Homo sapiens: one gene and its partners. The protein of the gene in region 1 purifies or fractionates together with the protein of each later gene. This does not show direct contact. Each region holds a gene or a part of one and is shown on either strand. Other genes may lie near its edges.

Region 1 (4,143 bases):
CGCCCGGCAACACAATCTCTTATCTAGAATAAATCGGTCACCTCACCGGAGGTTTTCCCTGCCTCCAATTCTCTCCACATCCAATCCACTCCTATAGCACCTAGCATGATCACTCTAACAAGGCAATTATTCATACCTCTCCTTAGCTTAAAAAGCCTAAGTAATTCCCCAGTACCTGGCATGTGGATTCCAAGACCTTTGATGACCTGACTCCAGCTCTGTACCCCTCATTTCTCACTCTTGAAAACCCTGGGGTCAAACCACTCTGGGTTTCTTTTTGACATCAGTATATGCTGCACAGTGCGAGCCTCTGTGACAATGGGCACTACCCCCCTTTTTTCCCCTTTTTGTCTGTTTTTTTCTTCCCCAACCTCTTCTGTGCTTCCAAAGTGTTGTCATATCTTCCCCATAGCATTTAACACATTGGAGCTTTTGAGGGTAAGAGCTTTGTTTTATCTTCATATAACTTTTCAGGACATAATAGGTGCTAAAGAAATGTTTTTGAATAAATGAATGAGTTGGTTGATGCTAGGCTCCTTTGCATTTGTCCTGTCTCATTTCTGCATTCTAACGCACGATAGGCAAATAGGGCTGTTTTTCTCTCTCATTTTCAAGACCTGAAAGACTGTGGTGTATACAGGAATCAGTTTAAGTGTTCAATTATGTGGCATTTCTTAGCCATCTTCCCAGGGGAGTTGGTAAGCACCAGATGCAACTCTATCAATGACATTTTGGTCATAGAACCATTGTTGGCTTAACCCATCTCTTGCTTATTTTAAAACATTTTCTGAATAGAGGTCAAGAACATCGTCTTCGGCCTCAGATAGCCTGGGTTTGACAAAGATAGCAAGCTTTGTCACTTTCTGACTTTTGGACTTAGTTAACTCACCTGAAAAATGGGAACAATAATACAAGCCACAGTTATGAGAATTCAACGAGATAATGCATGTACAGCACCTGGCACATGGTAAAACGCTCAATAAGTGGTAGTTAGTAGGCTTAATGTATCTCGGTGCCCAGGGGTAGCGCAGTAGCCATGGGGAGCTCCTGAGAGAGAAAGCACAGCCTAAGGGGAGGATTTGGGGCCCGGGATGGCGATGGCGACGGTTGGGCTGCAGTACCGTCTAGGCCGCATTCCTCTCCTTGGGCCCCTAGCCACCCCCTCCCCGCCTGGTTCCCGGGCTGCAGACTCTTCCCCGCCCCCTCGCTCCCACTTCCCCACCGGAGGTCGAAGGCTGTAAACGCGGCGGGTGGAACCTTGTGTGGGCGGAACGCGAGTGCAGCGGTGGGAGGCTTCCGGGGGAGCTGCACGGGCGACGGGTCGGCGGAGACAGAAAAGCGCCGGACGCCGGGGTGATCATGGACGCTTGACAACCTGCGGGCAGGCGCCGGGAGGCCGAGCCAGCGACTAAGAGGACCGAGAGGTGGCGTGGACAGGTAGGAGCTAGCGAGAGGGTGGGCCGAGCGGGGCCGGCGCTCCAGGCTCGGCCAGACGATCCGGCTTAGAGCCCGCCGCCAAGGAAGCCCGCGGCCGTGCCCGCCCCGCCCCCGCCTTGGGGAGCGCGTCCCGCGGCTCCTCACTCCACGCCTGCGGCCCTGCTTGGAGCATACCGCCCACCGTGAGGTCTGCTGCAGCTTGCGACCCTCAGCTTCAGTGCTGTGGCTGCTTTCGCTCTCCCATCCCCAAAGGCTGCTCGTTTGCCCCTCTCCAGTCCATCCAAATAGCGCCCTCCCCTGACGGGAATTTATCTCCGCTCTGTGCCTAGCCTCTGGCCCTCCCACTCCAGAAGAAAGCGACTGTCTCCGTCTCTTTACATTCTCTGCGCCCACAGGCTTTGCTCCTTAAGCCGAGATTTTTTGAAGGGACAGAAGTTTCTCTCCATTTCCCTACCCCCTCTCCACCCCCACCTCCTAACATTGGGACTCTTTGCAGAGATCCCCATCTGTCTCTTCACACGGGTCCTCTTGGAAGGGCCTTTTCGCTCCTTCCCTCTTTACCGTCACCGACCCTCCTTTCTTCCCTACTCCTTTCCTTCTTCCTCGTATCCTCTCCCCTTCTCTTTTCCCTTTCCCTTCCGTCCTCAAACTCGTTGTTCCCCAGCACTTCATTGTTTTTCCTGTGTCTGGCCGGACCTTCTTAGGTAACCCTAAGTGAGGCGACATACTTGTTTCTCTAATACTGTGAAAGGGCAACTAATCTGTGTGCCTGCCAACACAAAACTTAGTTCCTCTTGCACCAAACTATTCTTCAAATTGTTCTTTGCTGCACTCTACTATACCGTTTTTCGTTCATTTTGTCACGCTGCTCTAATATGTATCATTCTTGGAGGAGAAATCTTACCTGGAACTCCTGTACACTCAGCGTGTAATTAGATTACACAATTGAGGGACCCTCCTGTACTTAATGTCTTCGGAGCGCTGATACAATATTTTCACTGTTTTCCCAAATCTTTTTATCGTTTTCTTGAGGTTTTTTTTTTTTTACACATTCTGAAGTCACGTTTGGTTAAAATGTCGTATCAGGAGGAGGCCGAATACAGGGATTTTTCCCCATGGTCTTACACAGCATGTATGTTCTTAGTTTGAATATATCGCTACTTTTCTTTCAAAATGATGTCTCCCTTTATCTGTGCTTACTTGACTTGATTAAATGAGACATCTTTCTTGTCTGGTTTTTTGTTTTCCTTATCTGTCTGGCTGTAGATTGGATTCTGATGACACAGTGGGAGCTGTAACTGATTGCTTTTGCTTACATCCGGTGCCTCTGTGTATAGGCAGTATCCTCCATTTCTTAACCAGAATGTATAAACGAGGTGGATATAAAACAGCTGCTGAGAAACTCATGTGTTTTTCTTTAGGTCCTGGTCAGGTTTAAGGACTTAGAAGGTGTTGCCTCTGGAGGAGGGACAGGTGGAAGTGAAATGACTTTTACAAAGTGTGTTTCAAACACCAGAATTTAGGACAAGATCCTTTTAACTCCAGGTTGAACTCCACCCATCTCATAAGGTGGTCATTGCATCTGGACTCAGGAACTGTTTTTTTTTTTTTTTTTTTTGAGACAGTCTCGCTCTGTTGCCCAGGCTGGAGTGCAGTGGCACAATCTTGGCTCACTGCAACCTCCACCTCCTGGGTTCAAGCAATTCTTGTGCCACAGCCTCCCAAGTAACTGGGACTACAGGTATCTGCCACCAGCCTAGCTAATTTTTGTATTTTTAGTAGAGATGGGGTTTTGCCATGTTGCCCATACTGGTCTCGAACTCCTCACCTCAGGTGATCCACCCGCCTCAGCCTCCCAAAGTGCTGGGATTACAGGCATGAGCCACTGCACTTGTCCTGTTTTTTCTTTATCAACACTATAAAAGTAAAGTATTCTGGTGTTTGATTCAGCACTGAATAGGCACAGACTTTGCAAAGGAGAAGGAAGAATGACTGACACAATTTTCTTTTGGACAGATTTCAAGGCCAGAGAATGGCAGGGGAACAGAAACCCTCAAGTAATCTCCTGGAGCAGTTTATTTTACTAGCCAAAGGTACCAGTGGCTCAGCCCTCACTGCTCTCATAAGCCAGGTCTTAGAGGCTCCCGGAGTGTATGTCTTTGGAGAACTTCTGGAGCTGGCCAACGTGCAGGAGGTAAGAACGGTTTGCAAACAATTTCTCTTTATTCTAAGACTCTGTAATTCTCCAGGTTTCCAAAGAATTTCAGTGCTGAAGTATTGTGAACCTGTGAGGTACCCTATTGTGAGACAGATGGGAATTGGTGGGGCAGAGGGAGAGATTGAGAGAATATCCTTGGCTCCTTTTATCCAGTATTTTTATCTTACCTTGGGTAAAATTAGATTGTTGCTAATAATAACCTAAAAGATAGTAAAAAAGTCAAATTGATCCTGATAAATTAGAAAAGTAGTGCTGTAAGCATGGGCTGTTTAATAGGAGTAGATTCATGCATTCTTAAGGACCAGAAACCTCCAGTGCAATATCGATAAGGAAGATTGGTCAGGGACACACAGCAGAAACATACTGCTATTGAACATAAGATGGACATGAATAGGAGTGTATTGTTCTTGAGGAAAAGGGCAGTGTTGTGCTAAATGTGTTAGATGTGTTAGATATGACATGAAAAGCTAGGACATAGTTCATTTTAC
Region 2 (3,500 bases), on another chromosome or scaffold:
TCACCACAACCTCCGCCTCCTGGGTTCAAGCGATTATCCTGCCTCAGCCTCCCAAATACCTGGGATTACAGGCATGCGCCACCACGCCTGACTAATCTTTTGTAATTTTAGTAGAGACAGGGTTTCTCTTATCTTGGTCAGGCTGGTCTTGATTTCCCGACCTCAGGTGATCTGCCTGCCTCAGCCTCCCAAAGTGCTGGGATTACAGGCATGAGCTACCGCACCTGGTGTGGGCCATACTGTTAACCCTTTTATCTTTTCATGTAAGTACAACTATTATTACAGCTACAAACCACTGAGTAAGCAAAAATCAGAGGAAGAGCTCAAGGACAAGAACCAGCTGTTAGAAGCCGTCAACAAGCAGTTGCACCAGAAGTTGACTGAAACTCAGGTAAGAGACCCACCAGAGCTCTGTTACCAGCTGCCACTGGGCGATCCACATGGAATCCTGATGGGTGGCCCCTTGGATGAGCAAGCTTGTTAATGCACAGATGCCCAAGGGCAGAAAAAAAAAGCCAGGCTTTTGCTATGGCTGTCCAAGAGCAAGGGCAAGAAAGGGCAACCACCCCTAGGGAGTTGGACAATTCCTGATCTGTCTGTGCTGTGCTCCAATAGGGAGAGCTGAAGGACCTGACCCAGAAGGTAGAGCTGCTGGAGAAGTTTCGGGACAACTGTTTGGCAATTTTGGAGAGCAAGGGCCTTGATCCAGGTAAGAGACAGCACACAGCTAGCCTCCTTTGAAGGAATTGGTGCATGTGCCCCTTCCGGGGTTGATCTTGGCAGCATGGCATCAGCTGGCCCAGTATGTGCAGGGGTTACTTTCATAAAGCCCTAAAGATTTTGGAAAGCTTCTGTTTGTTTTCATGTGATGTTGATTTTTGCCTGGCCAATAGGATTTCAGATGATTATAGAGAGAGGGTTATCTCTTTCTTACCTGAACACTTTATGCCATTCATTTAGTGCCAACAGGTATGACCTTGCAAATAGATGAGAAACACTTTGTTCCTTTCAAGGGAGAACATTTTCTGTCTCTTCCTATTTGGGAAAGTTACTAGTGTGCTTGAAAGGAACATTTTGTTTGAACATGCTCTTCCTTTCAAGCATACTAGTAATCCCAAATGGGAAGAGAAAGAAAATACTATTTCAAGCATTCTTAAACCTGGTTAATCATCAGAATTACAGTGACTAAAATATGACTACTATTCTGACCCTGTCCCCCAGAAAGCAGTATCTGTAGCAAAGAGAGCAGAAGAAGGAATTGCCCAAAGACTGTAAGAGGGCCTCAGACTGAGTCAAAGAGCCAGAGAATGCCCAGGAAAGGGGCCCAGGCCTTTTTGTATTAAGGAATACTGACTTTGAATGTTACTGGTTAATCTTTAGGTTACAGTTGAGGATATTCTTTTTTTTTTTTTGAGATGAAGTCTCATTCCATTGCCCAAGCTGAAGTGCAGAGGTGTGATTTCGGCTCACTGAAACCTCCTCCTCCTGGGTTCAAGTGATTCTCCTGCCTCAGCCTCCTGAGTAGCTGGGATTACAGGCGTGTACCACCACACCCAGCTAATTTTTGTATTTTTAGTAGAGATGGGGTTTTGCCATGTTGGTCAGGCTGGTCTCAAACTCCTGACCTCAAGTGATCTGCCTGTCTCGGCCTCCCAGAGTGCTGGGTTTACAGACATGAGTTACCATGCCCAGCCTAGGATATTCTTTATAGTCACCATAAATATATATGTTTTTAAATTTAAAATTGTTTATTTTTTTGAGATGGGATCTCGCTATGTTGCCCAGGCTGGCCTCCAACTCCTGGGCTCAAGCAATCCTCCCAAATAGCTGGGACTACAGGTGTGCACCACCACATCCGACACCATAAATATTTTGTATGATTTTAGTTTATTACATGCATGTGATATTACCGAAAGTAATAATTTTTTAAGGCCTGAAAGGCTCTTAAAAATAGCTTTGTGAATTGTGAACAAAACCAAAAAAAATCCAACCTATACATTTCCTTTGGACAAATTGTCCACTGACCTAAGGAGAAAGTATACCGAATTTTTGGCCATATCAAAACCTAGATTGAAAGGAGATAAAATACAGTTTTGCAGGGCAGATATGGGTGACCCTGCCAAGGTGAAAACTTAGGAGAAAGTCCAGGATGAGACACTTAAGAGAAATTCCCCTCATGAATATTTCTGTACTTGTCCACGGAGGGTTTTTATTTTCTTTTGTTTAGGGTGTGTAGTTCCCTAAGTGAGATTGACTTTGTTGTATCCATCAGCTTTAGGCAGTGAGACCCTGGCATCACGACAAGAATCCACTACTGATCACATGGACTCTATGGTGAGGGCATGGGTGTGAAAGGGCGCAAGGGCTGAGTGACTGTGGGGCTCTGTAAATCTAAGAAGGTCTCTGCTATATATTCCATAAACTCCAAGAAACAGCCTTTGATTATCTGTGATGCTAGAAAAGAGAAATGGGATGTGTACTCAAAATAGCATATTTTACTTGAAAGGTAGCTTTGTGCTTACAAATATAAGTGAGTCTGAATTGAAAATTTAAAACACATAATAGGTAAACCTGTAGAGAGAGCTTTCTCGTTCTTCTGTTCTATACTTTATCAAATTTCTCTCCTGACTCCTTTGTTGAGAACTGTGTGGAAAGGATGTTAGCCATCATCTAATGCAAGTCTGGTTTTATATGAAGATTTGTTTACTACATTGTGCTTTCCTCTTAGTTGCTGTTAGAAACTTTGCAAGAGGAGCTGAAGCTTTTTAACGAAACAGCCAAAAAGCAGATGGAGGAGTTACAGGTGAGAGGCAGACATCACCCTGACCATTTCCTACCATGATAGGTAGATTTATAGTGGGGTCTTTTCTGTTTTTCTATTTATTTTTAATAAACTTTCTAAATAATTTTAGATTTATAGGAAAGTTACAAAGATAATACAGAAAATTTACCCTGATAGTAACGTGTTTTTTTTTTTCCAACTTTTAAGTTCAGGGGTACACGTACAGGGTGTGTAGGCTTGTTACACAGGTAAACGTGTGCCATGGTGGTTAGCTGCACAGATCATCCCATCACCTAGGTATTGAGCCCAGCATCCATTAGCTATTCTTCTTGATGCACTTCCTCCTCCACCCCCAATAGTAACATCTTACATTATCCTGGTACATTTGTCAAAACTAAGAAATCAGCCAGGCATGGTGGCTCACGCCTATAATCCCAGCACTTTGGGAGGCTGAGGTGGAAGGATTACTTGAAGCCAGGAGTTTGAGACCAGCCTGGGAAACATAACAAGACCCCATCTCTACAAAATAAAATTTAGAAAATAGCCAGGCGTGGTGGTACATACCTGTAGTCCCAGCTGCTCAGGAGGCTGAGGCAAGAAGACCACTTGGGCCCAGGAGGGCAAGGAGATAAAGTCTCACTGTTGTCCCCCAGGCTGGAGTGCAATGGCGTGATCTCGGCTCACTGCAACCTCCGCCTCCCGGGTTCAAGCGATTTTC
Region 3 (3,500 bases), on another chromosome or scaffold:
CACCCCCGACCAGGAGCTCACGGCTCCCAAGCGGCCGTCCACCCGTACTGGCCCCACGTCCTCTCAGCCTCCCTGGCCTGCACGACCTCCCCAGCCCCCGCCCTTTGGGCTGCACAGAGCCCAACTGGGGTCCCCTGAGATCCCTGGCCCTGCTCTGTCTACCTGACATTTCCTTAGAGAGAGAGAGAAAGTTCTCTCTGGTTTTTTTTTTTCTTTTTTTTTAGCCAGGCGCGGTGGTGGGGGCCTGTAATCCCAGCTACTGTGGAGGCTGAGGCAGGAGAATCGCTTGAACGCTGGAGGCGGAGGTTGCAGTGAGCTGAGATCGTGCCATTGCACTCCAGCCTGGGCAACAAGAGAAACCCCGTCTCAAAAAAAAATTATTTTACTTTTTTTTTAGAGACAGGGTCTCACTCTGTCACTCAGGCTGGAGTGCAGTGGCGCCATCTCCACTCACTGCAGCCTCAACCTCCCGGGCTCAGGCAATCTTCCTGCTTTGGTCCCCCAAGTAGTTGAGATTCCAGACATGCACCAGCGTGCTTGGCTAATTTATGAAATATTTTTTTTTAGTAGAGATGAGGTTTCACCATGTTGGCCAGGCTGGTCTCAAACTCCTGACCTCTGGTGATCTGCCTGTCTCAGCCTCCCAAAATGCTGGGATTACAGGCATGAACCACAGTGCCCGGCCTGAATCTTTTTTTAATTTTTTGTAGAAACGGGGTCTCTCTATGTTGCCTAGGCTGGTCTAGAACTCCGGGCCTCAAGCAATCCTCCCTACTTGGCCTCCCAAAGTGCTGGGGTTACAGGCGTGAGCCACCGCACCCTGCCAATAATTTTTTGAAGTATCACGGAAAAGTCCAAAACACATCTTTTTTTTTCAGGTGGAGTCTCGCTCTGTCATGCACGCTGGAGTGCAGTGGTGCGATCTCGGCTCACTGCAACCTCCACCTCCCAGGTTCATGCAATTCTCCTGCCTCAGCCTCCCAAGTAGCTGGAATTACAGGTGCCCGCCACCACGCCCGGCTCTTTTTTGTGTTTTTAGTAGAGATAGGATTTCGCCATGTTGGCCAGGCTGGTCTGGAACGCCTGAGCTCAGGTGATCTGCCCGCCTCGGCCTCCCAAAGTGCCGGGATTACAGGCGTGAGCAACCACGCCCGGCCCAAAACACATTTTACTACCAGGCAGGAGCCTGCTGCCTCCCGGGCCCGCCCCCGGCCCCGCCTCCGCCTCCAGCCTCGGTCCGCCCCACCCCGGCCCCGCCTCCAGCCAGGCCTGGCCCCGCCCCCGCCTCGTACCGGCCCCGCCCACCTGCGTGAGCAGCATGAAGGCGTTGTCGGCTCGCAGGTTCTTCTTCAGGAACTCCACGCAATGGGCCTCGAGCGCTGGCACCGCGTACTTCTTGGCGGTGTATAGCGTGGTCATCACCGTCTCCGGGCCAATCTGCACCTCGTCCGAGTAGAGAAACCTGCAGAAGCAACGCGGGTGGCCGTGAGGTGGGACCGCCATGCCCGCCCCCAGGGGAGAGCGTCAGGGGACCACTCAGACCGTTAGACTCGGCCACCGGCCCTTGAGCTGGCAGGACCCAAACACCCACATCAGGTTCCCCGAGGAACCTTCCAGAATTAGCCCCTGTCCGTTGCCCTCTGACATAGGGACACGACTTGGCAAGGTGGTCACCCATGAAAACGAGCAAGAGGCTGAACCCATCTACACAGCACACACCCGGAAGCGTCTATATGGCCTGTCTTGTTCTGCCCGGGATGCCCCAGGAGAGGGCACTGGGAGCTGGGTGTCTCCTTCTTGGGCACCTTTTCCATGAGGAACTGTTGGTTCCCCACCTCGGGCACCACCGAAAACCTCAACCACTTCTGGGTGGATCATAGAACCCAACACGCTAATTAGGATCATGGATAATCATGGACGCTATTACCACCTGCCAGCGAGGGGCCCACACGACACTGAATACAGATCAGAAGTTGGGCCGATCAAAAATAGAAGCACAGGCTGGGCCTGGTGGTTCACGCCTGTAACCCCAGCACTTTGGGAGGCTGAGGCGGGCAGATCGCCTGAGGTCAAGAAGTGCCAGACCAGCCTGGCCAACATGGTGAAACCCCGTCTCTACTAAAAATACAAAAATTAGCTGGGCGTGGTGGTGGGCGCCTGTAGTCCCAGCTACTTGGGAGGCTGAGGCAAGAGAATCGCTTGAACCTGGGAGGCAGATGTTGCAGTGAGCTGAGATCTCGCCACTGCACTCCAGCCTGGAGACAGAGCGAGAATCCGTCTCAAAAAAAAAAAAAAAAAAAAAAAAAAAAAAAAGCAGCACAGGCCGGCCTGGTGGTTCACGCCTGTAATCCCAGCACTTTGAGAGGCCGAGGCGGGCAGATCACTTGAGGCCAGGAGTTAGAGACTAGCCTGGCCGACATGGCAAAATCCCCCTCTACTAAAAATACAAAAATTAGCCAGGTGTGGTGGCAGACACCTGTAATCCCAGCTACCTGGGAGGCTGAGGCACAAGAATCGCTTGAACCCAGGAGGCGGAGGTTGCAGTGAGCCAAGATCGTATCACTGCACTGCAGCCTGGGAGACAGAGTGAGACTCCCTCTCAAAAAAAAAATAAAAAATAAAAAAATGTCTCCAGCCTGGAGCAGTGGCTCACATCTGTAATCCCAGCACGTTGGGAGGCAGAGGCGAGAGGATTGCCTGAGACCAGGAGTTGGAAACCAGTGTGGGCATGGTGAGATCCTGTCTCTAAACACATTTTTTTTTCAGCTGGGCACAGTGGCTCAGGCCTGTAATCCCAGCACTTTGGGAGGCTGAGGCAGGCGGATCATGAGATCAGGAGATCGAGACCATCCTGGCCAACATGATGAAACCGGGTCTCTACTAAAAATACAAAAATTAGCCAGGCGTGGTGGCGTGTGCCTGTAGTCCCAGGTACTCAGGAGGCTGATGCAGGAGAATCACTTGAACCCGGGAGGCAGAGGTTGCAGTGAGCCAGGATCGTGCCACTGCACTCCAGCCATGGTGGCAGAGCGCTACTCCATCTCAAAAAATGAAAAAATAAAAAAATATTTTTTTTCTCTCCCAGCCTGTGGGTGGCATTTCCACTCTGCCGGTATTGTCCTTTGAGGTATACATTTTTAACATTTTCCCTAAGTCCAATGTCTTTGTTTATTCTTTTCTTGGCTGTGTCTTTGGTGTCATATCCAAGTAATCATGGTCAAACCCAATGTCATGAAGATTTGATTCTGGTTTTTCTTTTTTTGTTGTTGTTGAGACAGAGTCTCGCTCTGTCGCCCAAGCTGGAGTGCAGTGGCGCAGTCTTGGTTTACTAAAACCTCTGCCTCCCAGGTTCAAGCGATTCTCCTGCCTCAGCTTCCTGAGTAGCTGGGGTTACAGGTGCCTGCTACCATGCCCAGCTAATTTTTGTATGTTTGTAGAGATGGGGTTTTGCCTTGTTGCCCAGGCTGGTCTCCAACTCCTGACCTCAGGTGATCCACCCA
Region 4 (3,500 bases), on another chromosome or scaffold:
GGAGGACATGAATAGTGTGTTTATTGTAACTCCTCATACACTTTTAAAACCAACATCTTTTTTCATAAATGTTGGTAGTGTTTGTCCAGGTACCTTAACTGTAGCTTGTGTAATGTTGATGAATATCTGTATCTTACGGCTTCCATAATGGCTAGTTGATATTCAAAAACCTATTTCTGTGTTTTGAGGGGTGGGGAAAAAAAACACTAAGTGATAATTTGAAAAAGGCATATTGCTTCCAGATTCTGATGTGTGAGGGAAAATACTGTCACAATGAAAATCTTGACAATTTACTTAACAAGTAACCAGTAGTTCATCAAAACCAACTTGTACAGACTAATAAATCTTTTTCACAGTATTCAGTTTTCTCACCTCTTGCTATTGTATATTGTAGATTTTTTTCATTCATGTGTTATTTAATTTACACTGATCTCTGCTATTTTAACCCCCCAAATAAGTTATTTGTCCTTTAAGGTTGGTTACTATAATACCCCTCAGTAAGATTCCAGTATTAATTTCTGGGCAGTTTGTTCTCTGTATACAATTGCAAATGATAAGCATTTTTGTGAGTGACCACCTTTGCAATATGTTTGTTAATTTACTTCATGTTGGGTTCTTTCTGAAATGTACATCTTTACATATAAAAACCTCACATTCTACTTGATTTACACTTCCTAGTCTACATTACATGTGGTTGAAGGTTTTATACATTCTATATGCTTTTACTAAATATACAAGATTTACTACTAGAAATTTGGAGAAAGAACACTAACACATGTACTTGTGATTTGTTCATGTTATATTAAAACTTGAGATTTGTGTATTTATGTAGAGTCTGTATTGACAAGACTGTTGTTTTTTGCTCCTTGAGCTATATAATAATCTGTGTATTGGATTGTTGTCTTGATTTGGTCTAAATTTGAATATATATGAGTTACTTGAATATAACAAAAATGAATTTTGTTTGATAGATTTATATTGTAACCTTTTTCTAGTTCTTGAATAAATATAGCCTGCTTTCCCTAGATGCATTTGTGTAGGAAGTATATACATTTCCCTATTACTCTCATCAGCTGAAGAATATGTACTATTGTGTTACTCAAATTATGTGGCTTTCATTTTGTTGTTTTGTTGCAAGCTTAGTGTTTTGTAGTGGAGGTTTTGTAAATGAAACAGTTGTAATATCTAAGGTCAGGCACCTAGTAACAGGGTTTTGTTAATTCTTTTCAGAATCATTGAAGCAGTCTTAAAGGGTCTTTTGCAGATGGTACAAATTAGAACAATTAGAATATAGTATTTTGAGTTCTAGTAGTACTGAGATTGACCCAAACAAATAAAAAACTATTCAATTTCTGAGTAATAGTTAATATTTATTGAAAGCTTCCTTGGTGCCAGATGCCTTTCTAAGTGCTGAATTATCTCATTAAACCTCACAGCAACCTTAAGAGATTAGTACTCCTATTATGCCCATTTTAAAGGTGAGGACAACACAATGTAGGTATGTTAGGTAACCCCCAAAGATCACATAGCTACTCAGTCACTGAGCTGGATTCCAGTCATGGCATTTTTACTTCTGAGCCCATACTCTTCACCATCGCTCATTTTACAATGGGTAGTTAGTTACCAGCTTTTTGTAACACAACCAAGTTAAGGCAGTTCCACTATTTCTTTATCACTCTTTTGTTATATGTAATAGAAGTATTTCACACTTTTGGGTTATAGAGTAAATCCCATGATGTAAACCTACCTCATAAGTCATGTGACATAAAAGTTAAGGTAGTGGAGTAGGTGGTCTTATTTCTTTCACCTGCTCAGAGTGGACTGAAAATCCTGACTTAGAAAAGGTACAAAGTTAGGGGACTTATGGTACCTTCACTTTTTATGTGAGAATAGAAATTATGGAAACAGTAATTTGCTCAAAACTGAAATCTGGGGTGATGTTTTCATTTCATGTATTTGATTGCCATCCATAAACTCATACTTGGTGTTGACATTCTAGCTGAGTGTTGTGGAAATAGACTTGATTTTGATTCATCGTAGCTTGCATGGTCAAGAGACATGATTCTCTACTAAGGGTGGGGCTAGCACCATAGCTCATAAAAGAATCCTTCTTACACCAGTACTTGTTCTGCCTGTGAGTTGGCACAGACTTACCTAATAACCATAGTGTCTTTAAGTACAACTTAATACATATTTTTTCTGTGTATTTTTTTCAAATGAACTCAACAATTCTTCAGGTATTATAGATCAGAGATCCTCTCCATATTCAAGCATTATGCTTCTCTTTCTTGGGGGTACATTTCACTAGTAATACTTAGGAAGTTATTTTGTCTTTCCTGTATTTCCCTAGTTAAGTATAGGGGTAAAAACGTTATTCAGCTTTCAGAAGACATTGTTCTGACTCCGACCCTGCCGTGTATACTCAACTATATAGACTTCACCCTGGGTTTTGCCTAAACTGTTGAAAGACGAGAATAAATAGACATAGACAGGCTAGCTAAGTCAAGACTAGGGGCTAAGGAATATAGAATCACCCAGGTCTTTTTTTTTTTTTTTAATTTTTCTCTCCTCAGTTGGGAACATCTATCATGCTGGAGGACTACTGTGATGGGGCTTTACATTTTACTGTTTTGTTGCTAGCTTATTGTTTCATACTTGGGAATCAGTCATGTTTCTGATTGTGGTATAAAGTTTGCTTAAGTGCCCCTTAGTTAAAGCTGTTCAATGAATGTAAGCACACACACACCTACACACATATTTTGAATAGTCGTGTGTTCATGCCTGTTCTCAGTCTTGTCCCCTTTACCGTTTCTCATGCAGGTTATTTCTTGCTTTTTTTTTTTTTCCTCTTTTTTAACCGGAGAAGCAACAAATTACGTAGTTTTTTTTGTGTTTCTTTGATTACTAGTGAGCTTGAGTACTTTTAATATTTTATTGGATATGTTTGTGACTGACTTTAATTTCTTGTTTGTGTGTGCTGTGGCTGCCCGATCCAGCACCTACTTCCTTCTCCCACCATACCACCCCCACCCCCACCCCTGCAAACAATTGGCATGTGGTTTGGGTGGCATTGTCACACCCTCGGCTTTCTAGATTAACCCAGTTACCTTTTAGCAGTGCCCCACTTCCCCAGTAGCAATGGTTCAGGGGTAGGCACCTGACCCAGACCAGACTACTGAGATAAAGATGTTTGCCTAGGCTTTTTCAGGAGCAATTGAAGACATCTTGTTGGAGATAGTGTGCTGGGAGGAGTCACATTCTGAACTTGCTGCAGCTCGTTTTTCTAATATAAAGGAACCAGCCTGAGGCAGTACCAGGGTGAGAGGGAGTCTATTGGAGCCCTTGGGAACTTCTGGATCAAATTGGACCTGAATTGAGATCTATTTCTCAGCTTTCACTTATGTGAGCCAATAAATTCCTTTTTTGTTGAAGGCAATTTGACTTGGATTTTCTTTTTTCTTGCAACCAAATATAAGTAGTGTGAGAATGTGTGTGTTTTT

What was found.
Region 2: the proteins of COPS7B (region 1) and KNSTRN purify together in Homo sapiens (affinity purification with mass spectrometry; 2 studies listed by BioGRID and IntAct, with this or other methods). This does not show direct contact.
Region 3: the proteins of COPS7B (region 1) and BTBD2 purify together in Homo sapiens (affinity purification with mass spectrometry; one large-scale study listed by BioGRID and IntAct). This does not show direct contact.
Region 4: the proteins of COPS7B (region 1) and RAB18 purify together in Homo sapiens (affinity purification with western blotting, with the first as the bait; one study listed by BioGRID). This does not show direct contact.

Annotation. Positions count from the first base shown.
Region 1 is NC_000002.12:231,785,102-231,789,244, forward strand, and holds the start of COPS7B (COP9 signalosome complex subunit 7b), read left to right. Parts: upstream 1-1,343; 5' UTR 1,344-1,437; intron 1,438-3,453; 5' UTR 3,454-3,469; coding exon 3,470-3,631; intron 3,632-3,637; exon of another isoform or gene 3,638-4,143. UniProt on the Homo sapiens protein: Component of the COP9 signalosome complex (CSN), a complex involved in various cellular and developmental processes.
Region 2 is NC_000015.10:40,389,221-40,392,720, forward strand, and holds part of KNSTRN (small kinetochore-associated protein), read left to right. Parts: intron 1-285; coding exon 286-391; intron 392-615; coding exon 616-709; intron 710-2,272; coding exon 2,273-2,334; intron 2,335-2,728; coding exon 2,729-2,803; intron 2,804-3,500. UniProt on the Homo sapiens protein: Essential component of the mitotic spindle required for faithful chromosome segregation and progression into anaphase.
Region 3 is NC_000019.10:1,991,715-1,995,214, forward strand, and holds part of BTBD2 (BTB/POZ domain-containing protein 2), read right to left. Parts: intron 1,463-3,500; coding exon 1,306-1,462; intron 343-1,305; coding exon of another isoform or gene 163-342; intron 1-162.
Region 4 is NC_000010.11:27,538,804-27,542,303, forward strand, and holds the end of RAB18 (ras-related protein Rab-18), read left to right. Parts: 3' UTR 1-3,436; downstream 3,437-3,500. UniProt on the Homo sapiens protein: The small GTPases Rab are key regulators of intracellular membrane trafficking, from the formation of transport vesicles to their fusion with membranes.